7 linked regions of the Homo sapiens genome follow. The protein of the gene in region 4 purifies or fractionates together with the protein of the main gene of each other region. This does not show direct contact. Each region holds a gene or a part of one and is shown on either strand. Other genes may lie near its edges.

Region 1 (4,131 bases), on a different chromosome or scaffold from region 4:
GAGACAGGGTCTTGCTGTTATCCAGGCTGGTGTGTAGTGGTGTGATCACGGCTCCCCGCAGCCTCAACCTCCTGGGCTCAGGTGATCCTCCCACCTCAGCCTACCGAGTAGCTGTAACTACAGTGCATGACACCATACCAGGCTCATTTTTGTACATTTTTTGTAGAGAGAGGGTTTTGCCATGTTGCCCAGGCTAGTCTCAAACTCCTGGCATCAAACAGTCCTCCCACTCTGGCCTCTCAAATGTTGGGATTACAGGCATGACCAGCCAATTATTTCAAGGAGTTATTTTTTTTCTTCTACTTTGGGGGAAGATGAATTATATAAGTCTCCATTTTAGGAGTATTTCTACCAAAAGAACTATTATCTTCAAATATATTTTTGGATAGTACTATAGATATACTAATTTTTTTTTAAATTTCTAGTAATTCTTTTGAAGATTTTGTATAGCTGTCCAAAGCCAATTTCTGTCTACCTAATTTCAGCAAGATTTCACTCTTTTCATGTTACTTTTGTCCCAGAACAAATTTCAAGTGCTTTCTCTTCACCTGTGCATTCTTCCCCCTGATTAGTCTCTGGCTTTGTATTACTTTCAGTCAGAGACGACTTTTTTTTTTTGAGACAGGGTCTCACTCTGTCACCCAGACTGGAATGCAGTGGCACAGACAAGGCAGCCTTGACCTTCTGGGCTCAAGCAATCTTCCTTGCCCTCAGCCTCCTGAGTAACTGGGACCACAGGCACGTTGCCACCATGCCTGGCTAATTTATTTTAATTTTTATTATTTTTGAGACAGGGTATTGCTCTGTCACCCAGGCTGGAGTGTAGTGGCATGATCAAGGCTCACTGCAGCCTTCACCTCCTGTGCTCAAGCAGTCCTCTCACCTCAGCCTCCCCATTAGCTGGGACTATAGGTCCACACCACTACACCAGGCTAATTTTTGTAATTTTTTGGTAGAGACAGGGTTTCATCGTGTTGCCTAGGCTGGTCTTGAGCTCCTGGGCTCAAGCGATTCACCTGCCTTAGCCTCCCAGGTGTGAGCCACTACACTCAGCCTTTTAAAATTTTTTACAGAGATGAGGTCTTGCTTTGTTGGCCAGGCTGGTCTAAAACTCTTGGGCTCAAGCAGTCCCCTCTCCACAGCCTCCCAAAATTCCGGGATTACAGGCGTGAACTTCGGTCATTTCCTAACTTTTACCCTTCCTAATGACACTCCAGAGCTTACCTTCTTTACTTTTGCTTCTTAAGTTAACTAATAGACAATTATTGTATGTGGATATTGCATTAAGTTGTCTTAGGATACCCTTTTCAGAGGAGGACAGCTTTTGACAAATTGCTGTCGCGGAAAAAAAAAGTATTTGGCAATTAAGAGTTGCATTTACTGAAATCTCTGTTGAGAGAGGGGAAGTTACGTTGTCTCTAAAAGAAAAACTAAAAAGAAAAGGGGAAGTTTTAGCAAAGTTGTTAAAGCCTGACACTTAAGTCATACTACCTAGTTTTGAACTCTTAGCCCCTGCCACAGACACGGCAGCCCCTTGAACCTTCCTGGGTTCAAGCGAGCCTCCTACTTCAGCCCCCTGAGTAACTGGGACCACTGGCCTGTGTCACTGTGCCTGGCTAATTTTTTTTTTTTCTCACATGGGCAATGTTGGGCAAGTTAAATCGACTTCTTTGTGCCTCAGTTTCCTCATCTGAAATGGAGATCATACTGCTATGTACCTGATACAATGTTTGTGAGGATTGAATGTGCAGAGTTCTTTTTTTCTGTTGTTGTTGTTTTGAGACGGAGTCTCACTCTGTCGCCCAGGCTGGAGTGCAGTGGCGCGATCTCGGCTCCCTGCAAGCTCCACCTCCTGGGTTCACGCCATTCTCCTGCCTTAGCCTTCTGAGTAGCTGGGACTACAGGCACCCGCCACCAGGCCAGCTAATTTTTTTGTATTTTTAGTAGAGACGGGGTTTCACCGTCTTAGCCAGGATGGTCTTGATCTCCTGATCTCGTGATCCGCCCGTCTCAGCTTCCCAAAGTGCTGGGATTACAGGCATGAGCCATCGTGCCCGGCTGAATGTGCAGAGTTCTTAAAACCGTGTCAAGAACATAAAATAGTTATTTGTTCTTTCATATAATGATGATTTTGAGGGCCTGCGGATCTTGACATGTTATCAGATTGGTCAAAAAAAGATTAAACCATAGTTGGTATTGTCCTAGTTCCTGTTACCAGAATATTCCATCTTTCATCGTTGCCTTCTCTCATAGTTTTATGTATCAAAAAGTTTATTGTAAAGCTAGGGCGGGCACGGTGTCTTGGGCTGGTAATCCCAGCACTTTGGGAGGCCAAGGCTGGCAGATCAGTTGAGGTCAGGAGTTCGAGACCAGCGTGGCCAACATGGTGAAACCCCGTCTCTACTAAAAATAAAAAATTAGCTGGATGTGGTGGTGGGTGCTTTAATTCCAGCTACTCAGGAAGCTGAGGCAGGAGAATCACTTGAACCCAAGAGGCAGAGGTTGCAGTGAGTTGAGATTGTGCCAGTGCACTCCAGCCCAGGGGACAAAGTGAGACTTGATCTCAAAAAAAAAAAAAAAAAAAAAGTTATTGTAAAGCTAGACACGGTGGTATTTGCCTACAATCCCAGCTGTTCGGGAAGCTGAGGCAGAAAGATTGCTTGGGTCCAGTAGTTTGAGTCTAACGTGGGCAAATATATGAGACTCCATCTCAAAAAAAAAATAAAAAATAAAAATAAAAAAATGTTTACTAGTTTTTTTCAGTAGCCTTTTATTATAGTAGCAGTACATGTGTATTGTAGAAATTTGGAAAATACAAGTGAAAAATAAAAACATCAAATTCCCGTCAGCCAGAGACTGCTATGAAATGTTTTGAGCACATCCTTCTTGAATGTTTTTTAAATCCTGGTATGTATATTTGTATTTTAAAATCAAAATGCATTCTTACCCATTCTCTTTTGAACCTGCTTTTTTGTAGCTAATGATCTCTAGTGTGTCCATTTCAGTAAAAATTCCATTATTAAAGTGCTTTAAAAATCGTCTCTTACAGTACTGCCACTATGTTGCTGGGCTGGTCGGAATTGGCCTTTCCCGTCTTTTCTCAGCCTCAGAGTTTGAAGACCCCTTAGTTGGTGAAGATACAGAACGTGCCAACTCTATGGGCCTGTTTTTGCAGAAAACAAACATCATCCGTGACTATCTGGAAGACCAGCAAGGAGGAAGAGAGTTCTGGCCTCAAGAGGTAACAGATTCAGGGTATTTTGGGGGAAAATAACTTTAGACATTCTCTGAAAAATCCTTTAACTCTTGTGGTTGCGGGTGACAGAAAAACAAGTCAGGCCTCCCCCAGGCAGCATAAGGGGATGTGGAAAATAGGATAGCTTGACATGAGTTTGCTTCAGGTAGACTGGCTGACTCCCAGGATTCACACCACGTAATCAGTATATTCAAGCCTTGCTGTCCTTGATTTCTTTCAGACGGTCTTTCTCCAAGTGGTGGATATGGTAACAACCCATGTGCACTAGCTTAACAAAAAGTTCTTAGGAATGGCTTTGTTCGGCCTGGCGCAGTGGCTCATGCCTGTAATCCCAACAGTTTGAGAGGCCAAGGTGGGCGGATCACCTGAGGCCAGGAGTTCGAGACCAGCCTGGCCAACATCGTGAAACCCCGTGTTTACTAAAAAATACAAAAATTAGCCGGGCGTGGTGGCAAGGGCTTGTAATCCCAGCTACCTGGGAGGCTGAGGCAGGAGAATCGCTTGAACCCAGGAAGCAGAGATTGCGGTGAGCTCAGATTGTGCCACTGCACTCCAGCCTGGGCGACAGAGTGAGACTCCCTCTCAAAAGAAGAGGAAGGGCTTGGTTCTTCTGCTCAGCCCTGAATCAGTTACTGTTGCTACACAGCTGAGTTCTCTGGCCTCGCCTGGATTACGTCTACACAGTACACACAGAATGGATTTCCCCCAAAGAAAGAATTCTGCAGCAGGAAGGGGAAAGGGATGGCAGGTAGACAAAAACTCCAGGTGTCTGTAATAAGGGACAGGGTCGATCTTTAATTAAAACATGGACAGGGAACAGAAAGCTTTTGATACTGATTTTGTTCAGAAGGAAAGTAGAAAATTTTATGACTGTT
Region 2 (4,131 bases), on a different chromosome or scaffold from region 4:
AGACAATGCCTACTGGGCCCCTAGTGATAAGCACTTTACACATCTTTCACTGACTTCTCACCTCATTCTATAAACATCTAAGCCCAGAACTTTGTTCACTTTCCGCCACTCCCTGATCTCACCATCGCCTACCCAGATGACCCCTCATCTGGCTTTCTTTGAGGAGATCCCAGCTATCCCACTTCGCATTTTTAAAAATAAATTTTTTTAACTGAATTCTCCTTTCCACATCTTCTACTGTCACTCTGCTTTCACCTTTCCCAACTCAAATGGAAAGCTGACTCTTCCCATTTCTAGAACTTACTCAAAACTTAAAAAGCATTTGGTAATGTTCCCTTCCCTTGCCCTGCAAAGATCCAGTCAGTTGCCAAGTCCCGATGGTTCTGCTTCCTCTGTCATCCCCTGCCTCCTGCCCTTTCTCACGTGTTACTTTATCAGTTCAGGTCCTTACTCCTGTCACCTGGCAGAATTCAACTGTATCCTTAACTATTCCTCTGTCTCTAGTCCCCTCTCCCCCTCCTCCATCAATGCATCCTTCATTCATGTTGCCAGTGTGACGTTGCCACTCCCTTATAACCCGTATTTCACATCAATCCTCTCTTCAAGAATCTCAATTCCCTCCTCATTGTCCAAAAGGGGAAAAAAAAGAAGGAATAAAAAACAATTCCAAACTCGTCTGCCAAGTACTTAAGACTCTCCACAACTTGAAGTCAGCTTACTTTTCAACTCTCACCTTCCAACTCTCTACTTCGCACACTACAAACAAATCAATTCCATCCACTTCTTTGTCTCCCTTACCTGTCTTCTCTGCCTTTGCTCATTTTGCCCTGTTAGCTCTACCTGGAATGTCCTTTATTCTTCTGCATACATTCAAAGCCTAGTTATCTCTTAGCATCTAAATTGATTAGGCATTCTCTGATACCCAAACCTCCACTGGCCCTAGCCCCAGCCTGAACTTCTCTACCCATCCGCTGACCCCTTAGGGCACTCTCTCATGGCACTCATTTTCTTTTGTAATTATTTGTTAAACAATTGTACATCTCAATATAGAATGCAGAGAAACAGTTCTGCCTCATCTTTCACTCCATCTATTTACTGCCCACTGCCTCTGAGATGGTTTCCATGAGAATCTTGCTTATTGAGATGTCAAAAGAGGAAGAGACTCATGCAAACACCCCATTAAATTCCAGGTAGTAAACACATCAATGAATACATGGGGAAATGCACAAAGCTAACTGATAAAGTCAAAGACACCTAAGAAATAAATATGGCACAGGTAACAAAAATCCTGAGTCAAGTAAAGGAGGGGGAAAAGGAGGTAAAAAGAACAGTGATGAAGCAGATCCCTCTCCATCCCCCAAAAGCAAGAAAGGATTACAGACCAAAAAAAAAAAAAAACCAGAAGTCCAGTCAGACTAAATGGCACAGACAATGCCACACCACCAGTCTCAACGGCAGGGTTACAAACAACTCGGGCCAGACCTTCAAAGCTCCTCCTGCAACAACTCAGAGCCACTCAATTCTCTCCATTTGCTAGCTGCTAGTTCTCCCTTTCTATTCCTAGAAGGTTTAATTCATTCAACAACTACTTTCAGAGTTTAATCAATAAATAAAGAGGTTACGCTAGGTCTTAATTGCTTTTGTCCTCCAAGTCCATGTGCCTTTCTTCCCCATGGGATGTGATTTATCCTCACAGCTTCCTGAGTCCTCCCAAGCAGTTGATGGCTCAGTTTTATTTGCCAATCTTCCAAACTCCACTGCCCACTGGACATCCTATGTGAATACCTTCCTCACAAATCTTTCTTCAAATCTAACATTAGTCTCATTTTGCTCAGCTGACCATTCCCTGGCTACTGTGGCAAAACATGACCTCTCTGTCCTTTATACTGCTCATTTAACATTTACAGCATCTCCTCTGTAACTTCATATGGCCTAAATCCTCTTGTCCTTACAGAATTAACATTTCCTAGTCCCCTTTAAATAATGTGTATTTTTATTAATATAATGGGTTCACTCACACACTGGTTCAGAATGTCTTGTTACCATTTACCAAAAAACTACTTGTGAAGGGCAGAGAAGGGATAAAGAGGAAGAAAGAATATACATAGGGAAAACAGAAAAAAAGGAAGTTACAAGAGAAGACAGGGGAGCCAGAGAGATGAAGGAAGCAACTAACATAAGTCATGATAACCTTGTGAGGTAAGAATTGAAATCTTTATGTTACAGAAATTGAAATGGAAGGCTGAGAAAGGTTAAGTCACTCGCTCAAATTTACCTATGAAGCTTTACATACATGGATGGCAATGGTTCCTTCTCCACTGAACAACACAAGGTTGATGACATAGGATAATATACTTAGAAACACCATCTGAATCATTATCAGGGTCATATTACAAAAGGTATTTAAAACTAACAAGAGTAGACCCTTGGTAATTATCTGAGAATTTCACCATGTCAACTCACTTTCAAAGTGCTTTATACGTATTTCAAAAAAATTGAAACACGATAAATCCTAATTTTTTTTTTTTTTTTGAGACAGCGTCTCCCTCTGTTGCCCAGGCTGGAGTGCAATGGCATGATCTTGGCTCACTGCAACCTCCACTTCCCAGGTTCAAGCAATTCTCCTGTCTCAGCCTCCCAAGTAGCTGGGATTACAGGCACCCGCTACCACACCCAGCTAATTTGTATTTTTAGTAGAGACGGGATTTCACCACATTGGCCAGGCTGGACTCATGCCACATTGGCCAGGCTGGACTCAAACTCCTGACCTCAGGTGATCCGCCCTCCTCGGCCTCCCAAAGTGCTGGGATTAAAGGCATAAGCCACCATGCCCAACCAAATCCTAAATTATTGATATTAAAATATAACAATCTAGTTAATGTACCTCAACTTATGGTTTGCTACAGTTTACAGTATCTCTTCCCAATCTCCACTAACAGTTATAAAACATCACACATTTCCTTGAGGCATAGATGTCTGTGTTAAAATGCTGCTTCAAAAAAGAAGGCAACACCACAAACTGAGTAGGCTTAGAAAATACTGCATACTCTAACAAAAAATAAAACTAATAAAAATAGCTAATATGTATTGAGTAATGACTATGCCAGACACCTCATTTGAATCTCACAACAATCTACGGGTAGATTTCTATTATCTCCATTTTACAGATGAAGAAATTGAGACATAGAAATTAAATACGCTGCCCAAAGACACACAGCTAAAAAGTAGAGCCCGGATTCCAATCCAAGCAATCTTAACTCTGAGCTCATGTTCCTACCCACCAAACTGCAATGAAAAAAGTGCACTACATTTAGAGGAAAATATTTAAAGGAAACAAACACTAAAATACAGAATTAGCTAAATCAAATGTACATCAACACAGAAACGTTTCCCAAGAGAAAGGGTACACGTGAATTATCCCTGCAGTCATGCATGGAATTACAAGTAAAATAATATATATCTGTAAAATATGTTCAAGATATTTCTATATTTTAAGATATTTTTATTTAAAAAAAAAAAAAGCAAAGAAAGTTAACTAAAGTAAAGATTACTAAAAAGAGCCTTCGAGGAAAAGTGCCCATTACAGTTTTGTACTGTTAAGTATAATGGACAAAGAATGGTACCTTAGCTCAAATAATGAAACGATTAGAGGAAGGCCGAGACAAAAATGTGAAGAACAGAGAAAAAGGAGCACAGGTTAACTACAGTGTCAAAAATTAAAACAAAGACTTGTGTTCAATAATACTTAACGGTAATAATGTTTGTAATAACAAAAAAAATGGAAACAGCCTAAAAGTCTATCAAGAGAGCAAAGGGGAAATAAATATGGTATAGACCTAAAATGTACTAACTTGTCACAGTAAAAATAAATGACCTAAATCTACATGAACCCACACTGATGAATTGAGTTGAAACTCAATTCATGAAACCACACTGCTAAGTGATTTTGAGTGGGGATAAAATAAACAGTATGCTGAACAAGAATACATGCAGTACCATCTATATAAAGTTTAAGAATACACAAAACAATACTATACACTGTCTAAGGAAACACACATGTGTAATAAAGCTGTACAGAAATACATAGGAATAATAAACACCAAATTCAGAGCAGTGGTTAGCTGTAAGATT
Region 3 (4,681 bases), on a different chromosome or scaffold from region 4:
ATAACACAGAATTTTCCTGAGTCCTGAAAAATTAGCAGCAGATGGCAGACAAACTTCTGAATCCAAAGATTTATGATCACACTGGGCTTGCGAAAGTGGTCACAGCCTAATCCTGGTTTTGTCATCTTGTTACATTGAAAGATACTTATTTTATTGTCTCCCATGGCCAAGACACTTTTCGAGGATTAGACACTTATTTCAAATATCCCGGGATGCCATCAAAATATAACATTCACTAAGGTTCCACATAAAATTGTGCTTAATATACCAGGCAAAAAAACATGAGGCAGAAAGGCTGTGTATAAAAATTTTGATCCTCCATGTTAACAGTAGCCCAGGAGCCTGCCTCTATGGAAACTAAACACTGTTCTAAACCACATAATCACTGGTTTGTATGTCTAGTTGTGTTTCTAATTCTTACTTTTATTGTGACAGCAGCAACAGAAAATTTGCTATATACCACGATATAGATGGTAGAAGTCAGTCCTTCCAAGCTTCCTGGTTCATACCTTTAATTCATTTCAAGTAAGTGAGGTGGTTTAACATCATAACTTGTGTTGTAACAACTGTACTCTGAACGTTAACTTCTGCATTTAAGTAAATACCACCATCTGCTTAAGCAATAAGGAAATCTATCTCCACCCACAAGTGTGGTAACTCCTGTCATGCCTGTCTATCTGGTATGGAGGCTTCCCCTAGGAATCACTCACCTGCACAGATCTGAACGTAGTAATGAAAGGCAACATGATATGATAGCCTGGTCCACTGGGGCTAGTTAGTAAAGCTCCTCCCCTGCAAAAAGATGTTTCAATTTGACAAAATTATAAAAAGAAAAATTATCTTTCCAAATCTAAAATGCTATAATAAATACTCACTCTTGCTCATGCTGCTGACCTACTAAAGCCTCACTAATATGAATTGCTCATAATGAACAACTGCTTAAAATACCTCCACACCTAAAAAGGGAAAAAGATCAAATTAAACTGCCAATGTTACACCTTGTTTCATAAGCTCAACCAACCGTACCTCTGGGTCTCCAGCACTGCTCTAAGGTTCAAAGGATTCTCCTCGGTCTTTAACCTTCTGAGAAATATTTGTTTAAAAAATTCTAATGGCTTTCAGTAGAGGTACATTAATAGTACATAACAAGAGCCAAATCAAAATATATAATACATTTAATCACCAGGTTGAAAAAAAGACAATGCAAACTTTGAAGTAAAGAGAAAATTTCTGAGGCTTATAATTCTTTCGATCTATCTACAAGGTAATTAAAATACTGGGAACATAAAATTTCTATATAAAAACAAAAAATTAGCATGAAAAGATGAAGGGTGACAAGACTATACAAATAAATAGCATAAGGGCTTGTTAACCAAATCCTGGAATGTGAAAACTATGAAAGCAAGCCCTGGAAATTATAAAAAGGAGGCATTTGGGGAGCAAAGAAAACAAAGTCCTATTTTGCACCTTGTAAATTCATAGAACTTAGCTACCGGTCTTGAAAATATAAACACATTTGCAAGGTCATAATAACAAGGAAAGATGAACTGTTTGAGGTTCATTACTAATTCTTTGAGTCATTCCTTGAAATGTCCTTTCTCTGGTTTTACTGTCAGAAAGACAATGCTTTTAAACTGGAAGGAAATCTGGACTAATCTGTAATTTCTTATGTAGAGCTCCATCTGCTAAGATATACCATTAAAATTGCTCTTTTTCTAGGATTCAGGATGGATTTGAAAGTAGAAATATCAGTTTTGAGGGATAGTGGAAACAAGCAAAAAGTTGACGCTCTTTTTGAATACACCATTATCCCAATTTCTCCACAAACTGGCCTCTCTTACTAGTCTGTATCAAAAGGAACTTGTGGTAATTAGGCTGAAGGAAAAGCTAAGCGAGCTCAACAAGAGAGCAACAGCTCCCACACCACTCCTGTCCCCAACTTGAACAGCAACAGTAAGGAGGGAGGAGCATGGCCCATCAGTGTTGTGCTTATGTCCCTGGAGGTCCAGGGACATAAGCACCATCACAGTCATCATGGTGTTACAAGACGTAACCAGACACTGGAAGCTTTTAAATGAAAAAGTCTAAGAAACAACCATAAACATACAGCATCTACAGCGGCAAACTAAAGCCTGTACAGTTGAACGAACTATAATTTATCCATCTCTTCAGTTAGAGGTAGAGTGACTACTTCCTTTCTTCCTTCTTCATTTTTCTACAAATAATTGAGTTTGCTGTGTATAGGAATAACCGTAGGGAGACTTAATCTCTGCAACAAAACGAACATAGCACTAAAACTGTCCAACATCTGGAGGGTGCTCCGCAAAAGCCCGCTTCGACCCCCGTGCTCTCCCTAGAGATGGGACATGCGCCCCCGAACGTTGCAGAGGGAACAACTTCCCAGACTCCACTCTGGAGTACCCTTTTAATCTGCTCTAGAGCCCTAACTGACTGCACATGCCGCTCACCTGTAGTACACAGCCAGATGGCCCTCCTCAATCTTGTGGATGGAGGCGTAGAGCAGGACAGCCACCAACCCCACCACTGCAGCCACCAGAACCCGGGCTTGAGTCATATTCATTCTCGTTCCTCCTGGGAGCGGGAGAAAAGGACCCTCAGTCCCGTGAGTGACAGGTCCACCCCCTCCAGTTTCTACCCTCTCCCTCCGGAAACTTGGCGCTCTCTCGCAGGCTGAGCCGGGGAGTCCAGTACCCCTGTCCCCTCATTCTTCCCTTCTGGCTGAGCCCGCTGACCCCTTGCCAACTCCTCCGCCCCCGGAGGCCAGTGGGCCGCCCCTGCTCGGTGAGCTTCCTGAAACTCCCTCTCCCAAGGGTCGCTCCCGGGTGGAAGGCACTAACTGAGAAGAAGCCCAGCCGCAGGCTCGCGAGGAAAGCCGACCCCTCGGCCGCGCCTCACCGATCAGTGACGCATCGCCCCCGCCCGCACGTGCAGCCGACTCCCGCGCCGAGCCAACCGCCGCCAACAGCCGGCCCCGCCCACTCGCCCAGCACTGCGGCTGCGCGGGGACGCACACGGCGTAGCCCCGGCCCGCGGCTAGTGAGACGGGGAGCGCATGGGACAAAATTCTCCTAGCCGCGGGCCGCGCAGGCTCCTTTGGAGGCAAGTCGCTTTCTGTACACTGCTGGTTAACTGCTTCGGAAGAGGACAGCCCGCAGTCTGGAGTGAGCAGCGAAGCAGAGAAAAGGAGACGCCCTTTCGGACAAGGGACTGGTTGGTTTGTTCTTGTGCAGAGAACCCACTCGCTCACTCTCAAACGGTAGCTGTTCGGTTTATTTGTCCTTTTGCAGTGTATGCGGAGCCCCACTGTGTGGCACGCACTTGCTTCCGGCAGAGATCCTGCCCTTCAGGAGCAACTAAACTTGTTGCAAATAAAGTGCTGTGAAAGTTCAGAAGAGGAAGATATTAGATATAACGGCATCATTCTCTCGTTTTTTAAGTGTTCCTATTATGTGCCAGAATGCTGGTCCAGTGAGGGCTTTATGAAGGCCATCCAGACTACAGGAACAGAATTGCTAAGCACATGGGGCGGGAGGCGGAGGGAATCCTCCAGGGAGACCAAAGTAAGTACTTCAGTTTCCTTGAAGGCTTGTGTGATGGGAAGGAGTGCTATGGTAGGCGTCACTACATATTCTGTTCGTTTTAAATTAAAAAACCATGGGCACATATTGCCAAAAATAAAAAAGGGAAGGAAAAAGGTATAGTTGGGAGATAGATGAATACAAGAGAAATTAAGGACATTAATGGTTTAAGCCTTGAAAGGCTAGAGGTGGAACTATAACTGGACAAGGTGGACTAGGGTTGTAAAGTCCTCTAACCCAGCGGACGGGGTGGGGGTGTGTGTGGGTTGGGGATGAAACTGTTCCACTTCAGATCATCAGGCATTAGATTCTCACAGGGAGCCGGCAAACCTCACATGTGCAGTTCACAATAGGGTTCGCGTGCCTATGAGAATCTGATGCCACTCGCTAATCTGACAGCAGGCAGAGCTCAAGGCGATAATGCTCACTCGCCCGCCGCTCACCTCCTGCTATCCGGCTTGGTTCCTAACAGGCCACTGTCTGGTTCCGGTCCGCGGCCCAGGGCTTGGGGACCCCTGCCCTCTTGGGTAGGGAAGTATGGGAAAGCAGTGCTTTAGGGCCAATGAATCTATAAAACGGCTGAAAGTGGAGACAGACTGTTGGCAAGGAAGTCAAGTGGTTAGGAAACTGCAGGCCCAGGGTTACTTAGTAGTGGAAGTAAGAAGAGGTAAATAGAATCAATCCGTCTTCATTAAAGCAAGACTTCCCAGACCACTCTACCCACACCCTTCAATAAATACACTTACCTGTATCATTCATTTGATTTTTATTATCTAGGAATGTCTGGGACCTTATCTGTTCCAAATAAATGATATTTGCAGAGCTTAGCTATTTTAACTTCCAAAAAGCAAAAAGAATGGAAAATAACTTGCTCCATACCCTGTTTTCTGTAGACATTCTCTGAAGTTTTTCATAATATTGCTTAAAGAATGAAATGTATACAATTCACAACTGCCATTCCCCTCTGAAAAGTTGTTACCCACCAAAAAATAGTGGTCCAACTCATGCATCAAAAGCAAGTTTGGGGATCCCACTATAATAGTCTGTTCTGACTCACACCATCTGCCCAAATTATATAGATC
Region 4 (4,131 bases):
GAATAGACTTCTGAGCATCTTTCAGATCTCCAGATCTGTTTGATCCAGCCATGATACCTTTAGAGATAAGGGGGAAAAAACCAAGTTAACTTCTTGGACACTTTGATATTGATACTGATAGCAAAGAGTAGAAGCAAATCTAGGAACCCTGAGAATTCTGCCTCCTGAGAAAAATCACTCCGTGGGTCTGACAGCTTCTAAAATATACAACAGCCTATGTGTTTACCTGTAACAGAGGGAAAGAAGATTCCCACCAGAAGCGTGAAGGAGGTGGTGATGTCAACAAGAACATATTCATGGTTTAAGCTGCCTAAGACATCAGAAGATTTGGCTGAAGGCTTTTCGATGATCTCTCCCTTGGGTAGGTAATTACTCCAAAGATTCTCTGCAGTGGGAAAAATGGGAATTTAAGCAGCAGCAGTATGAAAAAAAAAAGATAATTAATTTTCTACCCAAACATTCAAAATCAGGCTCCTCATTTATACAGTTTCTAAAGGTGTGTTTGCTTCTACATGAGCACATGTATACACACACATTGCACAATAAAACACACATAAATAAAAACATAGTTTTTTTTTTGTTTGTTTGTTTTTTGAGACAGAGTTTTACTCTGTCACCAGGCTGGAGTGCAGTGGCACAATCTTGGCTCACTGCAAGCTCTGCCTCCCAGGTTCACGCCATTCTCCTGCCTCAGCATCCTGAGTAGCTGGGACTACAGGCGCCTGCCACCACGCCCAGCTAATTTTTTATATTTTTAGTAGAGACGAGGTTTCACCATGTTAGCCAGGATGGTCTCGATCTCCTGACCTCATGATCCTCCCACCTAGGCCTCCCAAAGTGCTAGGATTACAGGCATAACCCACGGCGCCCAGCTAAACATAATGTTCTTTCTTATCTAATTTAAATATAATTTGACAAAATGATTTGGTACATGCAAATATAGTTTAACTTTACTAATGCAAATTAGTAAAAGTTAAACAGACTAAAACTAAATGCCCCACAAATCCCATTATTATTTGTCATCAGTGCTGTTTCTAACACCTTAATGTAAACTTACTTATGTGCAAAGAAATTTATAGACCAAACATTTATAATAGAAGACACTTAAGGAATGTTTCAGGAATTTAGCTAAGTTAGGAAGATACATGTGGATGTGGACATTAAAACAGGTCTATTCTGTCAGTGCAGGAAGAACATTGGCAATTTTACAAGAATACACGGAATATTTTACCGTAAGGTTAGAAAGTGATTTGCTCAACTCTGCTCTGAAATGGAGGTGAATTTTAGCAGACATCACTCTGTAAAGGAGTACTGAATAAGGACAGCTTTACTAATGGAAAAGCAGAAATATGGTGAATTAAGAGCTGTGTGGTGTGCTTAAGAAGGGAATTAGCACCATGGCAGTGAATCTTTATGGACAGTAGAGGAATCTAAGATGACAAGGCCTATTTTCCCCAGAAAATAGGAAAAAACTTGTCCAATAACTCCCTAACTTACCTGTAATTATACCACTAGCCAATCCAGGAATGCCCTGGATTGAAGTGACGTTATTGTGAACAAAGTATTCATCACAGGTGGCATTGAAAAATTGACTCGAGTTACAGAAGAATCCCCATAACTTTGATGGGACTGTCATGTTGTTAATTTCCTTGGTCTTAGAGCAAACGTCAATGTGTCTTGATGAAAGGGTGCGGTTACCCAGCATGCAGACCCTAAGTGAAAAGAAATAGGGAGAAAGATCAAGTAAGGAAAAAAAGTACATTAAAAAAAAAGGAAACAGGTTAGTAAAGGAAACAAGAACCCCATCTTTAAGAGCTTCTACTGTTATGGGTGGGAAAGGAACTAATGTTTATTTATTTATAATTTATTTTAACACTGTGAATGGTGACTTACATTTTCTGCCAATTTAATACTTACAGCAACCTCACAATGTATTAGAATTTCTATGTTGTGGATGGAGGCACTGAAGTTTAGGAAGACAGGGAGTTAATTGAAGGTTAGGGAAATACAGTTATCTGTCCAAGGTCATAGGTGGTGGCAGTGAAGGAAGTCAAATTGAAGAACTGTCTGAAGACATTATGCTGACTCATCTTCCAAAATTTTTGGCTAAAATTGTTAGGTCTAAAAGAATACTGAAGTCCTTTTGTTGTTCTTATAAAGTAAAAAGCACTCCTCTTTTTTTGGCCTAGAAAAGCCTAACATTCATAACAAACACCTTGAAAATGTTATGCTAAAGGTTGAATCTTCTGGCTACTGTTGCAAGGAAAACAGCTTGGTCAGAATTAAAAGGCAGATCCCTCTATGGCCTAAGAGAAAACTGTTTTTGAATTTAAGCCTAGACTCAGTGGGAGTGACGGTAAGGATAACATAAATATTAACCTGCTGGTTTTACTTTTTTCTTTAACCCAGAGACACAAATATAAACAAAGGAATAATACATCCATAGTTAAAATACCTCTCAGGTCCAACAAAGGGACTTCTAAAATTTGCAAAATGATTGAATACATTATTATGAACCATGTACCTATTACTCAGCTTCAACAACTCTCAACATTTCCCAGTCTTGTTTCATGTATTATTCTAGATTTTTTGTCTTGTTTTGCTGGAATATCTCAAAGAAAATACCATGCATTATGACCGTGTACTAATCAAAAAAGAGGAGAAGCCCCAAAGGTGAACCTGAGACAAAATGGAATTTCCCAAATTGAGATATAACCAGAATGTCACCTTTAGAAATTTTATGCCCCTAAAAAGGACCTTCAGCTGTATTACAGTCCCTAGATAAGCAGATTAAAAGTTTAAGATGGAATCTACTTCTGCCATCATGCAGCATAGCATAGAAGAAATACTGAATGGGGAGTCAGGAAATCACAGTTCATCTTCTTGCTCTGCCATTAATTAACTTTGAGGTAAGTCATTAAACCTACTGGAACTGTCTTTTTGTCTTGAAAAATCTTTTTTTCTGTAATCTGGTTAAATCAACATAGAACCGATGAGTTTGATCCTCAGATAATCCAGATGACTCTTCAAGATAATTCTGTAACAAGACTACAAATAACACTGAGTGCCAGCTAGTCCCTATGCCACTAGTCAAAGGGAAAAGTGAGCCTGTGAGTCACAGATGTGCACAAATCCATTACTACTTCAAAAAACATACTTTAAAGTATTCGCACTAGGGAGTTGAAGGAGGTGGTGAATGATGAGAGAGTACTTAATGGGTACAAAGTACATTATTTGGGTAATGGATAAAAGCCCTGACCTAGGCTGGGCGCAGTGGCTCACGCCTGTAATCCCAGCACGTCGGGAGGCCAAGGTGGGCCTTATAAAGGTTGCTGGCAATAACTACACTGTCTGCAAAGCCCTTTATGAATAGTTCAAAATGTGTATAATAAAAAAAGATTATGTACAATTATCAGGGAGAAAAAAATCTAATATCTGAACCTAAATGATGGTTACAGCTACTAGTTCTATGCTTAGGACATAAGAAAGAGGATGAACGGGACATAGTTTGCTGGTAGGCTTCCTGCCTAGATGAGGAAGGAAGTCTAACTGGGCTTATCTGAGAGGGAAAATCTCAGAGAGACTCTATGAAATTCTGACTTAAAATTATCACACCACCAGATATTTTCAATTACTACCCAATAAGGATGGCTAGGCAGAGAGACAGACACGTACGGGAAGTGTGGAGGAGCAAAAGAAGACTTGATGGCTCCAGCATAGATGGCCAAGATGGACACAATGACACAGGCCAGGAAAAGTGAGGCAAACTTGTTCACATAGCGTACGCCGATAAATACCACTAATACCATAAGGACCAAGAAAGCTGTGCCGTAGACACGCATGTTATTTAGCATGGCTGCTGATTCCTTGAGTGCGTCATCACTGTGAAAGATGGCAGCTCGGGGGACGATATAGACCTGTTAGGTAAAAATAAAGGAGAAAATTAGGTTATTTCAAAATAATTAAGTAAAAAGGCTGTATTCGTTTGCATTTACTTTCACAAAAGAAAGCAAAGCTGAGAGAGAAAATGACTGGGGAATTAGCCTAGTTTCTAATAGGATCTGAAATGCCTTCAGAAATGGGATGTCATGGATTTTTTTTTTTTTTTTGGTCTACATGCTGTTCTGAATA
Region 5 (4,131 bases), on a different chromosome or scaffold from region 4:
GTCAGGCACATCCCCATCCAGACAGCCCCTTCTTTTTAGTTTGTCACCTCCCTCCCCAGATGACAAAGTAGAACACTTAGGGACTCTAGAATGCACAACACCCCCCACCACTTCCCATCTTCCCAGCCATCAGCACTTGGCTCCAAGGCCACCCCCTCTTCCGGGAAGCTTTCCAGGACTCCAGGCTGCCCTCTGCAGCTTCCCTATAAGGTGTGCCCTCACACACCTTCCTGAAAGGCGCCTTCCTCAGCCCTTAACGGGCCTGGCCCGAGTCCCCTCTGAAGAGACTTGCCGGTCCTCGGGCCACACGGCCTGCAGCGGGTTCCTAAATCCACCCACTCAGCTTCCAAGAAGCCCCTCTGGCCTCAGGCTCCTTGTCTCTCCCCTGCGCACCCTGAGACAGCTGCTGTGACAAGCAGCAGGGACAGGAACACAGGGGTTTGCGTCCCTCCCTGCACCCAGGCCCTCTGCATAGTCGGGGGGCTAGTGGGGATCCCCCACAGCAGCCCTGACCTCTATGGCCACTAGCAGTGGATGGGGCCCACGCGCTGCCTACCACTCCAGCGCACGTGGCCACGCTGCTGCACCCACGCCCGCCTGGCCAAGAGCCAGCCCCGCCGCCCCGGCAACCACCTCCACGGCAGCAGAGCTTCACTATTTTTAGTGGAAAGCAAGAGGCTATTTAAAGACTCCGCTTCCCACGACAGCCATCCTCGGCGGGGCTGGGAGCCCAAGTTACCCTTCCTCTTGTCCAGGGCCCAGCCCGTGGAGGTAGACACCAGGGTGAGGACACAGCTGCGGCCACACCTCCCTCTGCTGGGAGGGCTCTCCCTGTCCCTGCCCAGTGGCTCAGCCCCCAGGCTTCCTTCCACCCTCCCCAGCCCTGCCTGGCACACAGGCAGCACTCAAACATGTGCCTGGCCTCCAATGCAACGCCATTCAGCCAGGACCACAGGCCCCTAAGGCAGGGTCGGCCCAACAAGATGGGCACAGGCAGGTGAGCAGCTCCCCCAGGGAGAGGCAGGGCCTGTGGAGCTCTCCACGAGCCTTCTGGGGAAGGCTGGCTACATAGTCTGTGCAAAATGAAACTGCGGGCCCCTTATTTAAAAATTACAGAGAATTTCAAGATGTTGACAGCGGAGCATTAAACCAAACGCAGGCCCTCATGATGCCCGTGGGGCTGGCCTGCTCTGGGAAGGGATGCGGCGAGTGCCATTGGTCAACCCTCGGGCTGCAAGGAGGCAGCCTCTGTCCTCCCAGTGCTGACCTCAGGATGGAAGCCTCGGGGCCCCTCTGCACCTGCGCTGGCTGCCAGCCTGCCTCCTGGCCCTAACGGGGGCCTTGGGGGTGTGTTCGCCCATCAGGCAGGCGGGGCCTGAACCCCATGCTGACTTGAGCTCCCTGCCAGCCCAAGCAGGCGGTACTGCTGTGTCCTCCCTGAGCCTGGACTCCCCCACACCAGGCGGGCTGGACAGCAGCCTTGCAGCCGTGGGGCTACTTTGGGAAATCTGCAGTGTGACCGGGTCCCTCCTGCCCAGTGCGGGTACCTGCCACATGCCTGTGAGGGCCCATATGGGCCCTAATCCAGGGGTTGGGGAGGCTTGTTGTGGGTTCTCTGACTGGGACCTGAGCTGCTGCCCACTCCTCCAGTCCTCCAGAGTGAGGCAACTGTCCTCTCTGTAGTCCCCAAGGTCAGATCCTGCCTAACAGGGACCAGCTCACAGGCCAACCCACCAGGGCCCAGAGCTCTCAGGGCTCAGTGGGAGAGAAGATGAGGAGCACACGCAGGCACCTACAGACACGTGTGAAGACATGGACACACACACAAACATGCTCCAGGGCACATGTGCATGGGTATGTGTGCACACACACAAATATACAGGCATGTACACACATAAACACACAGACAACCTGTTCTGGTGCACAGAAGGCACACATGCACACATGCAATCATGTCTGCATACAAAACACATATACATGCATGAACACTTGCATGCAGACATGCACACGTGCACACACTGGTGCACATGCATGAACGCAGACACGCCTGCACATCACTCACCCACCAAGACCTATGTGTGAACACGCGTGAACACAGGCATGCATAGACACATGCCTCCTCACACTGCACCCAGCCCTATCCAGCCTCGGCTCGGCTGCCCCTCACTCTGGGCCTCAGACACGGCCCTCCCACTCTCTGGGCTTCCCTTTGCCCCTCTGTGGATAGGGCAAGTGTGAGGACACACAAGCACTCTCAGGGTGCGCAAGAACACGGGAGGACACACAAGGACATGCAAGGATGCATGAGGACACATGGGGACAGGGGAGGCCATGTGTGGATGCTCAGGGACACTCAAAGACACGCATTCCCACAGGCAGGGCCTAGCAGGCAGTAGTCTGGGTCCAGGCTCGGGGAGGCTCCACTCCCACCCAGACCTGATGGTGCACACCAGGCTCGCCTGCCGGAGGGCCAGGCAAAGACAGGCTCTGGGCCTGGGCTGGAGGTGGAGTGTCTGGCCCGCCATGTCCCTCTGAGCCCCTCCTGGCTGGCTCCAGCCAAGCTACGGGTGGAGGGCAGGTCCAGGGGGCCCAGCCCCGAGGTTCCAATCCCTCCTCCAGGGCCACAGGCAGGGACATGCACCACCACCATAGGCCCCACCCGGGCTGAGGCCCCAAGTCCCGCCTGGGCTGGCAGGGAGATACCGCCGAGCAAGAGGGGTGGCTTAGGGGCAGAATGTCCGCCACAGCTAAATGTGGAATGGAAAATTTTAACTCAGACGTTTTCATTTAAATCAGGTTCTTCATTAGCACTGTTTGTGTATGAGTGGCACTCGCCCGTGGGGCGCTCGGGACCGGCGGGGCAGAAGCTGCTGCGCCCTTGTCAGGCCAGGCCTTTGGGCCTCGAAGTACCTGCACCTACCTGTCCAATCCCTATAGACACCTGGACAGATGGGGAAACTGAGGCTCGGGGGCCAGGAATACCCCAGGCCACATGCGGTGGGTCCCAGCAGGGGGGCTCACACTGAGTTTTCACTCCCAGGTTCCCCAGACTCATGAGGTCCCAGTCAGCAGTTCAGTCCCTCCTGGCCCACCAAGGCTAGTCTGGCCCAGGGCCTGTTCTGACTGCTGTCCTGAGCTGGGCCTCCAGGCAAGGAGAGGGCTCAGGACGATCTAGGGACCAGCCACACCATCCCAGATGCCCCAGACAGAGATAAGCCAGCCTGGCTCAGCCCCAGGCACTGGCAGCCTGCCAGGCAGCCCCAGCCCTCGGACATTCACAGGGTCCCTGTCATTCTGCAATGTGGCTCTGGAGTGAAGTCAGGGCAGGGTCGGGAGCCTGGCCTAGGGGTCTTCGAACCCTCTGCCAGCAGCTGACCCAGCCTAGCATTATACCATGGTATAAAGGGCTTCTGAAGCCCAGGGGGATACAAAACCCCCAGAAACATAGGAAGGGGCCGGGAGCAGTGATCACACATGTAATCCCAGCACTTTGGGAGGCTAAGGCTGGCAGATCACCTGAGCTCAGGAGAATAGCCTGGGCAACATAGCGAGACCCCATCTCTACTAAAAAAAAACAAAAAAACAAAAAATAAATAAATTAGCCAGGTGTGAGGGTGCCCACCTGTCATCCCAGGTACTCAGGAGGCTGAGGTGGGATGATCACTTGCGCCCAGGAGGTCGAGACTGCAGTGAGCCGAGGTAGCACCACTGCACTCTGGCCTGGGTGACAGAGTGAGACCCTGTCTCAAACAAACAAACAACAACAAAATCCTAGGAAGGCTTCCTGAAGGAAGAGGGCCTCTGAGAAACTGCCCTGCTGTATGTGCCCCATCCTGAGAGGGTGCTCTTCACAACTGGGCATCCTTCCATGCCCAGACCCTCCTAGAGAGATGTGTGAATGTCCTGCTGGTCCCAAGACCCTTGGCGATCTGGCTGAGGGAGGGGTCCCTGGTTCTCAGGCCTCCAGCTCCCCACACCACATGACACCCAGAACTCCTGCCCACCTGGTGCATGGGTGAAGCCACCCCACCGGCAGCAACTCATGTTTACTGAGTGCAGAGAGGGGGCTGGGGCCACTCACTGTCTGGTAACGTCCGAGGAGCAAACAGTGAAGTCGGGAACCCTGTATAG
Region 6 (4,131 bases), on a different chromosome or scaffold from region 4:
TATGTTAAAAAAAATTTATATATATATATATAAAAACAATAAAATGAATTACACTGAAACCTTAGTAGAGATTGTCTGGTTGATGAGATTACGGATGATTGTTTTTCTTCTTTAGTCTGAGTTGCACATCCAAACTTTCTACAATATGAGTATACTACTTCTTTTAATCAGTAAAACTCACTTTTTATTCTTGGGTTTTTAAAATAAATCCTCCCAAATTTTTCCAGTAACCATGAAACAATCATAGACCATACTCTATGTAAAATAGCATTATAATTTCACTAAACTATTTCAGCCTCAAAACAAAATCCAGTTGGGTAAATAAGCCCTGATACCACTATCTCAGAACTAAGAGAAATAATGAGGTATAAACCAGTTAAAAGAAGAGCAGAAACGTGAAAATAGCATCCTAAAAACACTGTGGCTCACTTATATCAGATCAGTTGCCAACATTACACTATAAGAGCAGGGGTAAAAATGTTGTAGTCCACTTAAAAAGAAAGAAAAAAAAAAGCTCTGAAAATCTGGGAAACCCATTTGCAGAGATGACATCACTATAATCTATTTTGAGATATTCTCTGGGAACCTGGCGTTGTTCTGCTATCAAAAGAGTAATGACCAGCATTTGTCATAGCTATCAACCTCCATCAACCAATCTGATAACATTATTTTCTTAACTCTGTGCTGAGACTATAAAGCAAGCTTCAAAGCTGGGAATTATGCTACTTTTGTCCTATTCTGTCCACTGAGAAAATCAGACAATGTTCAACTTGGCTGCGTTCCTCCATTAATTCTCCTCGGGTCTAAGAGAAGAATGAAGATGTTGAAGAGAATTAGAAAACAGATTCCGTCCAATCACATTTCAACCCCGATGTAGTATTTCCAATTGTAATTACTTTCATGGGAGGATATTTGTGATAAGGCGCTGCTCCTGTTGCTAATTCAATGGCAGTTATTCCAAAACTCCACATGTCAGCCTTGAAGTCATAGCCTCTCACCTAAGAAAGAAAGCAGGAAAAAAACACAATCATACAGCAGGCATGTTACACATCATCAAGTCCATGTCATGTCAGAAATCCACAGCTGTTGATGTATAACTTTCACGTTAGTTTGCTAATTAGCTAGCAATTGAGAATTAAATCTTAGTTACATTATGCATTCTACTAAAATGCTAGATACAAATGAAATGTTAGCATATTAATGATCTGTACGATTGTACTATGTCCATCAAAAAGTCACTTTTTTTGTTTTTTTACCTGTTCCATGACTTCAGGAGCCATCCAACATGGGGTGCCAACGAATGTTTTTCTTACTTTATTTCGGGTAACATCACCCCCTGTTGCTAGGAACGCACTTACCCCAAAATCTGAAAGGGAAAAAAAAATCACCTTTATTTTATGTAAGACATTATTGCTTATAAATTGTGATTTTTTGAGCATGTCTCTTCTTTGTGAGCTTTACAGTGGTGATGAACTATTCCAAACATGTCTACGGTGCTCTCTCAGGAAAAAAAAGGAAGACCTGCCCTCTGCTATCCCCTACACCTTGGAGAATACCATCGCTGGTAATGGGCCACAAGCCTGCCGGTCCAAAAGCTTAGCATACCAAATTAAATATAAAGGGTGTTAGCTTTTAGCTGAGGTATATAAAGATAAGATATATAAAGCCAACATGCCCGAGTATGTCCATATGCAAAAAAGCTTAGTCAGCAAAGACTGATTTTCTGGACAATTTTCATAAGTACAGAGGCAATGGATTGTACAAGTAAATAATATTTTTCTTAACTTTAACTCATTATATATAGAAGTTAATTTTATAAGAAGATGAATTAATTAGGCATACTGTACAGATTGAGCATCCGGAAATGCTTGCGACCAGAAATGTTTTAGATTTTGGATTTTTTCTCATTTTAAAATACTTGCATTATATACTAAACTAGTTAAGTACCCCTCATTCGAAAACCAGAAATCTGAAATGTACCCGTGAACATTTCCTTTGAATGTCACCTCACATTCAAAAAGTTTCAGAATTTGGAACATTTGAGATTTCACATATTCTGATTTAGGGATACTCAACCTATATATACATACAGGCACATGTGTAAAAATTCTATTTGTATGTACAGTACAGAAGGGAATGCCTGGCAATTATTAACGTACTATTCTTGCTTTCATTTTTACACAGTGGTTAAAAGTAGTTGATAAGTTAAAGTACCAATTACTCAAGACTAGTGTACCTATCAATGATAGCCAGGTCAAGGACTACTTGATAGCGAGCTGGTGGGTAGTAATAAAAACAGGTAGGCAACACATCAAAACACCACAGCGCAATGTGCAGTCTGAGCCCCTGCAAATCGCTCTCATACGCTTTTCCTTTGCGAGTCCCCCTTGTTGGCTGTCAGGGTGACAGCAATTACCAAAAAACACCCTCAAGTACAAACCAAGGTCAAAATGTATTAGCATTTGCTGTAGGCCTATAAGGTTAGTTTATGCAATTGTAACTTAATAACATTGTAACTGGTTTCCTGAGTAGAAATACATTGAATGTTGCATTTTATTTATATTTAAATTTACTCATACTCCCAACAGGATTTCAACTACAAATAAAAGGAATGAAAATTGACAAATGGAGTCTTTGTTCCAACTGCTACTCTCATGTTCATATTGAATAAAAGTATATATGTTTAAACTGCTAAATAACTTAATATGCATATATGTTTCCAACTCTAAAGCCCTTTTAATTCTTATACTGCAGCCAGAAAACTGAAGTCTTGTGAAAAGAAATCTCTGGAACCAGTCAGTCTCCTGTGGGTGGGAGAAGATACAATTCATTCTCTTAGAGAAGAGTTAGGTGAATTAAAATATTTGTAAGCATCTACTATATCTGCTGGAAAAAATATATATGATAAAACTTTGAAAGCTACTAATTTCAACTTAATTTATATTTCTAAAAAGAAGTTCAACGATGAATCCAACATTTCATTTTTATTAAAATGATTTTATAATATAATATGAAATAAATACATATCATCTATAAATTAAGGATACAGGTAAAAGCTGCTTTAAGGAAAAATTGATTATTTTAAATGCAATTGAAGCAACTCTGCACCCTAAAGTCTCTTCCTAAAAGACATAATCCAGGTAAAAATCCATAGTTAACATTAGATATATTTCCACTTCCTTAAAAATACTACCTGCTTACATTACACATTTTAAAAAGTTAGAAAACAGCCGAAAAAGATGTATAGTAGCCATTTATTATTGACAATACCCTTTCAATATATCTGTAATGATACATACATTCAGAGCCTCCACTTTGAACACTCACTTTAAAGTCATAAACAGATGGCTAAATGTCTTTAAAACTCAGAACAAAAATTTCAGGAGCAGAAAACAACAATCCTAATATCTACTCCCTCTATGACTACAGAAGAAATATACAATTTGCTCCTATGTACGGCTGATGTGTATACAGATTATATGTACTCAGTAACAGAACATTTTGAGCAAAGTACATAGTGTGCTTATGTTATATACACAAAAAATTGGTATATTATATTGAGATAGCTTGCATATGACAGTTAGAACAAGGTGGCAGAACTGTAACAGTGAAAAGCTGTCCTTGTTTCCTAAGGGGTACATCTATACAGCCAAAGGGAATGCAGCCAGATTCACTTGGGTACAAAACCACAGACATTTCTCTAGAAACACAGAATCAAAGGCTACACATAAAGTTAGCCAGTCCATCTCCCTGCCTCCAGGAATAACTGGAGGATATGGGTAAATGCTGCTTTAAGAAAAACAACAACAACAACAAATAATGCTGTCATCCTAATAACAAAAAGGGTCTAAGACCTTCTGAATCCATCCACTTCTTTGCTCCTCCACAGCCACTGCCTTCATTTAATCCACCACTACTTCTTGCTAAGATTTCTGCAGCAGCCTCCTAAGTTCCCATCTCCCTTCTTTCCCCAGATCCAGGCTCCAGCAACCAGGCCTTTCTATGTCACAGGCCTGAGCCCTCCTTAAAAGACTTTCAGGACAGGAGCGGTGGCTCATGCCTGTAACCCCAGCACTTTGGGAGGCCAATGCAAGTGGATCACGAGGTCAGGAGTTCAAGACCATCCAGGCC
Region 7 (4,131 bases), about 15 Mb from region 4:
TTGAGGCAACATATCCAATAGCAAAGATAAAGTAATAGGTTGAAATATGTTTTGTTTTTGTAGTAAAAAGTAAAGGGAATAATAAAAATAAGAAAAATGGATAACACATGATAAATTATAATCTATATTTTTTAGTATGTCTGAAATATTTTAAAAGGAAATTTAAGAGGGAGAGAGAGAAGAAACAATATGATTGTGAGGATATGTGTCTCAGAGCTCAGAAGTCAAGTAGAATAGTAAAGTTGAGTACAATGTAGAAAATAAAACAGGCCAAGAGATCTTTTCATAAGAACATAGAAGGCTGTATGTTTGTGAAAGCAGACATATAGAAATGAGAGAAAAGTGTTTTTGTTGCTTCTCAAACTTCAGCAGGCCTGAGAATCACTTGCAGGGTTTGTTAAAGCATAGCTATCTGGGCTTTCCTCCTAGAGATAATGATATAGTAGGTCTGGAGGGTGTCCTGGGAATTTGCCTTTTTTTTTTTTTTTTTTTGAGATGGAGTCTTGCTGTGTTTCCCAGGCTGGAGTGCAGTGGCACAATCTCAGCTCACTGCAACCTCTACCTCCTGGGTTCAAGCGATTCTCCTGCCTCTGCCTCCCAAGTAGCTGGGATTATAGGTGCCCGCTACCTCGCCTGGCTAATTTTTGTATTTTTAGTAGAGATGAGGTTTCACCATATTGGCCAGGCTGGTCTTGAACTCCTGATCTCAGATGATCTTGCCCACCTCGGCCTCCCAAAGTGCTGGGATTACAGGTGGGAGTCACCGCACCTGGCTGGAATTTGCATTTCTAACAGGCTCCCAGCTGGTCTTTGGACTACACTTGGATGTAAGTAGCACTATTCCAGATAATTATATCAGCCACAAAAAATAATGTCAACATGTTGTGCATCCTTCCTCCAAACCAAAAGAGGTCCAGAAAGGGCCGGTTCCATAGCATTGGCTATAGAGTTATTTTAAGATTAGAGTGATTAGTTGAGATCTGTGACAGTGTGAAGACAGTTTCTAGAATTCAGAAGTAGTTAAGTTGGTTCAGTGGTTCTCAAACTTTGCTGCACATTGGAATAACTTGAGGATCTTTAAAAAATACTGTTGCCTGGCCCCTACCCTTAAACTTTGTTTTGTATGGGCCCTGGCCTGGGCATCAGGATTTTTAAAAGCTGCTCAGGTGATTCTAATGTGCAGCAAAGTTTGGGAAGCACTGAGTTGATGAATGCTGTCAAATTCTCTTTGTAAAACTTCACATGAGAAAATGCACATTTTGGTAAGGTTGGGCAGGTTATAAAAATTCTGTGGAATCCATCACCTCTATCCGAGTCACCTGGGAATGACTTCCAGGCATCCATTGCAACATGACCTGTTTTCTCTAAAAACACTATTTAAACATGTTTCAAATCACTACTGAATTATTCTGCTGGTAGCAAAGGAATTTTGCAGTGAATTCTTTTGTAAAGCTCACCTTAGATAGTGGGTTCCTTTAGCAGAAAATTTATTTAGTAGGTACTCTATCCCATCATCCCAGCCATATATATAGTATTGATCAATGGTAACCACCATTGTCTAGGCCAAGCCTTTGGAGATGCCCAGTTCTGTCTTTTGACACTAGTGCGTCCTTGTGCCTTCTTTGAATTCAGTTAGGAATTCAGTCAGGAATATTAAAAGTGAAAGGGACTCAAGGCCATTATCTACTCTACTCCTTTATATAGGTGAAGATGTTAGTGCCAAAGAGATTAAGTGACTTTTGCAAGGCCATGCATCCAAAAGTAATAACTACATAAGATTTATTGAGTCCTTATCATCTGCCAGGCTCTGGGCTAAGTACTTTAAATGGATTATGTCCTTATGTCATTTAATCCTAAAGGATGCTATCAAATTGGCATTGTAATTATCCCCATTTTATAGATGAGGAAATTGAGGCTCAAAGAAGTTGAGGAATGGGCCTTTAGTTCTTCAGCTGGTAAGTTAATTCCAGCAGTTTGTCTCCAGATTCTGTTCTGTTAAGCATCTGTGCTAGGCTTCCTCTGCAAATTGGTGTCAGGATTGGAGCTTAGGTTTTTTGATTTCGCTATTACTTTTTAGTTATGTACTACCTGTTTTTTTCTGTGATCCACTAGTTCTATTATTCTGTCATACAAACAAATTAGACTAATGAAAAATGACTTTTTCTGTTTGGTATTGTCCTTTAATGAACTGTTCTAGCCACTAAAAGTGCATTAAAATACAGTTACACTTATCAGCAAGTAATTATGCAGGTGTGTGCTATATTCCTAAGTAATAGTAAAAAATCCTTATGAGTCCGCTTTTGCTTTAGGTAAAAGATACTTAATTTGTTGGGGGCACAGATAAAATTTGAGATTGTATCTGTATTAAGAAAAGTAATATGAAATTTTTTCTCACATTAGTTTTGGCTAATTATATAATTATATGTGTGAGTGTTTATGTGTCTATACATACATATAAACATATTTATGTATATATTTTGACCAATTTTAGTGTAAGTATAGTTTTTAGAATAATGTCTTATCTAAAATCATGTTTCCTTTTAATTTTGATTTTACATTTCCTAGCTTCAGAGGTTAACCAAAATAGTTACCTTAATTTTTTTGCGAAGGAGGAGAATCATAAAGACTTTCAAAATGCATGTTGTTATGTTCTTTAGATATCATTTGCTGTTTCTGAAGCTAAAGAGAAATGGAAGAGTGAGCTTGAAAATATGAGGAAAAATATACTTCCTGGAAAGGAATTGGAAGAGAAGATTCATTCTCTTCAGAAGGAACTTGAGTTAAAGAACGAAGAAGTCCCTGTGGTCATCAGGGCTGAGTTAGCTAAGGCTCGGAGTGAATGGAACAAAGAAAAGCAAGAAGAAATCCACAGAATCCAAGAACAAAATGAGCAAGATTACCGGCAATTTTTAGATGATCACCGAAATAAAATTAATGAGGTGCTTGCGGCAGCTAAAGAAGACTTTATGAAACAAAAAACTGAACTACTTCTTCAGAAGGAGACAGAATTACAAACTTGTCTAGACCAGAGTCGTAGAGAATGGACTATGCAGGAAGCCAAGCGGATCCAACTGGAAATCTATCAGTATGAGGAAGACATCCTGACTGTACTTGGGGTTCTTTTAAGTGATACCCAAAAGGAGCACATCAGTGATTCTGAGGACAAGCAGCTTTTGGAAATCATGTCGACTTGTTCTTCAAAATGGATGTCTGTGCAATATTTTGAAAAACTAAAGGGCTGCATACAGAAAGCATTTCAAGATACACTTCCTCTGCTTGTAGAAAACGCTGACCCAGAATGGAAAAAGGTATGTTCCTGAGAGTGAGAGAAGGTATTGAACACCAAGAATGATTATAGAAGTTGTATATAGTGTTTTTTCCTTTTTTCCTTTTAAATTTTAGTAGATGTAAGTCTTATGTTTTTGTCAGTGGTTTAAAAAAGTTTCTGTAGCGAAATCCAAAGGTTTGCATGTTTCGTTGCCAAAAAACTTTACTACTTCATAGTGTCACAAATACAAGACAAGATTTTAGCCTCTAAATATCTTTTTCCTAAAGAATATTTAGGACAAATACCTAATGCATGCGGGGCCTAAAACCTAGATGACAGGTTGATAGGTGCAGCAAACCACCATGGCACATGTATACCTATGTAGTAAACCTTCACGTTCAGCACATGTATCCCAGAACTTAAAATAAAATAAAGAATATATGCTGTTCTTTCTAAGGGCCTGAGATTTCAGAAACTGAAAATTTTTTTTTCAAAATTCTGTTTTCTGGGCCTGACCACTTCATGAAATATGCATAATAAGAGTTTCTTAAAAGCTTGTAAAGAGTTTGGAAGCCTATTTATTGCCCTCAATAAATTTATGTCTCATTTAGGCAAAAAAATGCCAACCAAGTACAAAGGTATTGATATAGAAACAAGCAAATAAATACGACTCACTCGCATAAAACTCTGAAGCCCAGTTTCTGGATGTACTATATATGTGCATATAGAATTAATTATATTCTTTTAGTTATATAAGTACTCTCTGAGACCAGCTTTTAATTTGTATGAAAGTTTCAGTAAAACCAAATTCTTGCTACCTTATGATCAAAGCAATTAGGTATGCATGAAAGATCCAGAATGAT

What was found.
Region 1: the proteins of SLC12A6 (region 4) and FDFT1 purify together in Homo sapiens (affinity purification with mass spectrometry; 2 studies listed by BioGRID and IntAct, with this or other methods). This does not show direct contact.
Region 2: the proteins of SLC12A6 (region 4) and ACSL3 purify together in Homo sapiens (affinity purification with mass spectrometry; 2 studies listed by BioGRID and IntAct, with this or other methods). This does not show direct contact.
Region 3: the proteins of SLC12A6 (region 4) and ERLIN1 purify together in Homo sapiens (affinity purification with mass spectrometry, with the first as the bait; one large-scale study listed by BioGRID). This does not show direct contact.
Region 5: the proteins of SLC12A6 (region 4) and ZDHHC8 fractionate together in Homo sapiens (co-fractionation; one large-scale study listed by BioGRID). This does not show direct contact.
Region 6: the proteins of SLC12A6 (region 4) and STK39 purify together in Homo sapiens (affinity purification with mass spectrometry; 3 studies listed by BioGRID and IntAct, with this or other methods). This does not show direct contact.
Region 7: the proteins of SLC12A6 (region 4) and CEP152 purify together in Homo sapiens (affinity purification with mass spectrometry; one large-scale study listed by BioGRID and IntAct). This does not show direct contact.

The regions. Positions count from the first base shown.
Region 1 is NC_000008.11:11,822,975-11,827,105, forward strand, and holds part of FDFT1 (squalene synthase), read left to right. Parts: intron 1-3,049; coding exon 3,050-3,241; intron 3,242-4,131. UniProt on the Homo sapiens protein: Catalyzes the condensation of 2 farnesyl pyrophosphate (FPP) moieties to form squalene. Proceeds in two distinct steps.
Region 2 is NC_000002.12:222,867,371-222,871,501, reverse strand, and holds part of ACSL3 (fatty acid CoA ligase Acsl3), read right to left. Parts: intron 1-4,131. UniProt on the Homo sapiens protein: Acyl-CoA synthetases (ACSL) activates long-chain fatty acids for both synthesis of cellular lipids, and degradation via beta-oxidation.
Region 3 is NC_000010.11:100,183,046-100,187,726, forward strand, and holds the start of ERLIN1 (erlin-1), read right to left. Parts: upstream 2,985-4,681; 5' UTR 2,582-2,984; coding exon 2,469-2,581; intron 793-2,468; coding exon 711-792; intron 1-710. UniProt on the Homo sapiens protein: Component of the ERLIN1/ERLIN2 complex which mediates the endoplasmic reticulum-associated degradation (ERAD) of inositol 1,4,5-trisphosphate receptors (IP3Rs).
Region 4 is NC_000015.10:34,250,673-34,254,803, forward strand, and holds part of SLC12A6 (solute carrier family 12 member 6), read right to left. Parts: intron 3,918-4,131; coding exon 3,676-3,917; intron 1,713-3,675; coding exon 1,498-1,712; intron 386-1,497; coding exon 227-385; intron 58-226; coding exon 1-57.
Region 5 is NC_000022.11:20,134,566-20,138,696, reverse strand, and holds part of ZDHHC8 (palmitoyltransferase ZDHHC8), read right to left. Parts: intron 1-4,131. UniProt on the Homo sapiens protein: Palmitoyltransferase that catalyzes the addition of palmitate onto various protein substrates and therefore functions in several unrelated biological processes.
Region 6 is NC_000002.12:168,139,393-168,143,523, forward strand, and holds part of STK39 (STE20/SPS1-related proline-alanine-rich protein kinase), read right to left. Parts: intron 1,367-4,131; coding exon 1,257-1,366; intron 999-1,256; coding exon 897-998; intron 1-896. UniProt on the Homo sapiens protein: Effector serine/threonine-protein kinase component of the WNK-SPAK/OSR1 kinase cascade, which is involved in various processes, such as ion transport, response to hypertonic stress and blood pressure.
Region 7 is NC_000015.10:48,755,080-48,759,210, reverse strand, and holds part of CEP152 (centrosomal protein of 152 kDa), read left to right. Parts: intron 1-2,657; coding exon 2,658-3,308; intron 3,309-4,131. UniProt on the Homo sapiens protein: Necessary for centrosome duplication; the function also seems to involve CEP63, CDK5RAP2 and WDR62 through a stepwise assembled complex at the centrosome that recruits CDK2 required for centriole duplication.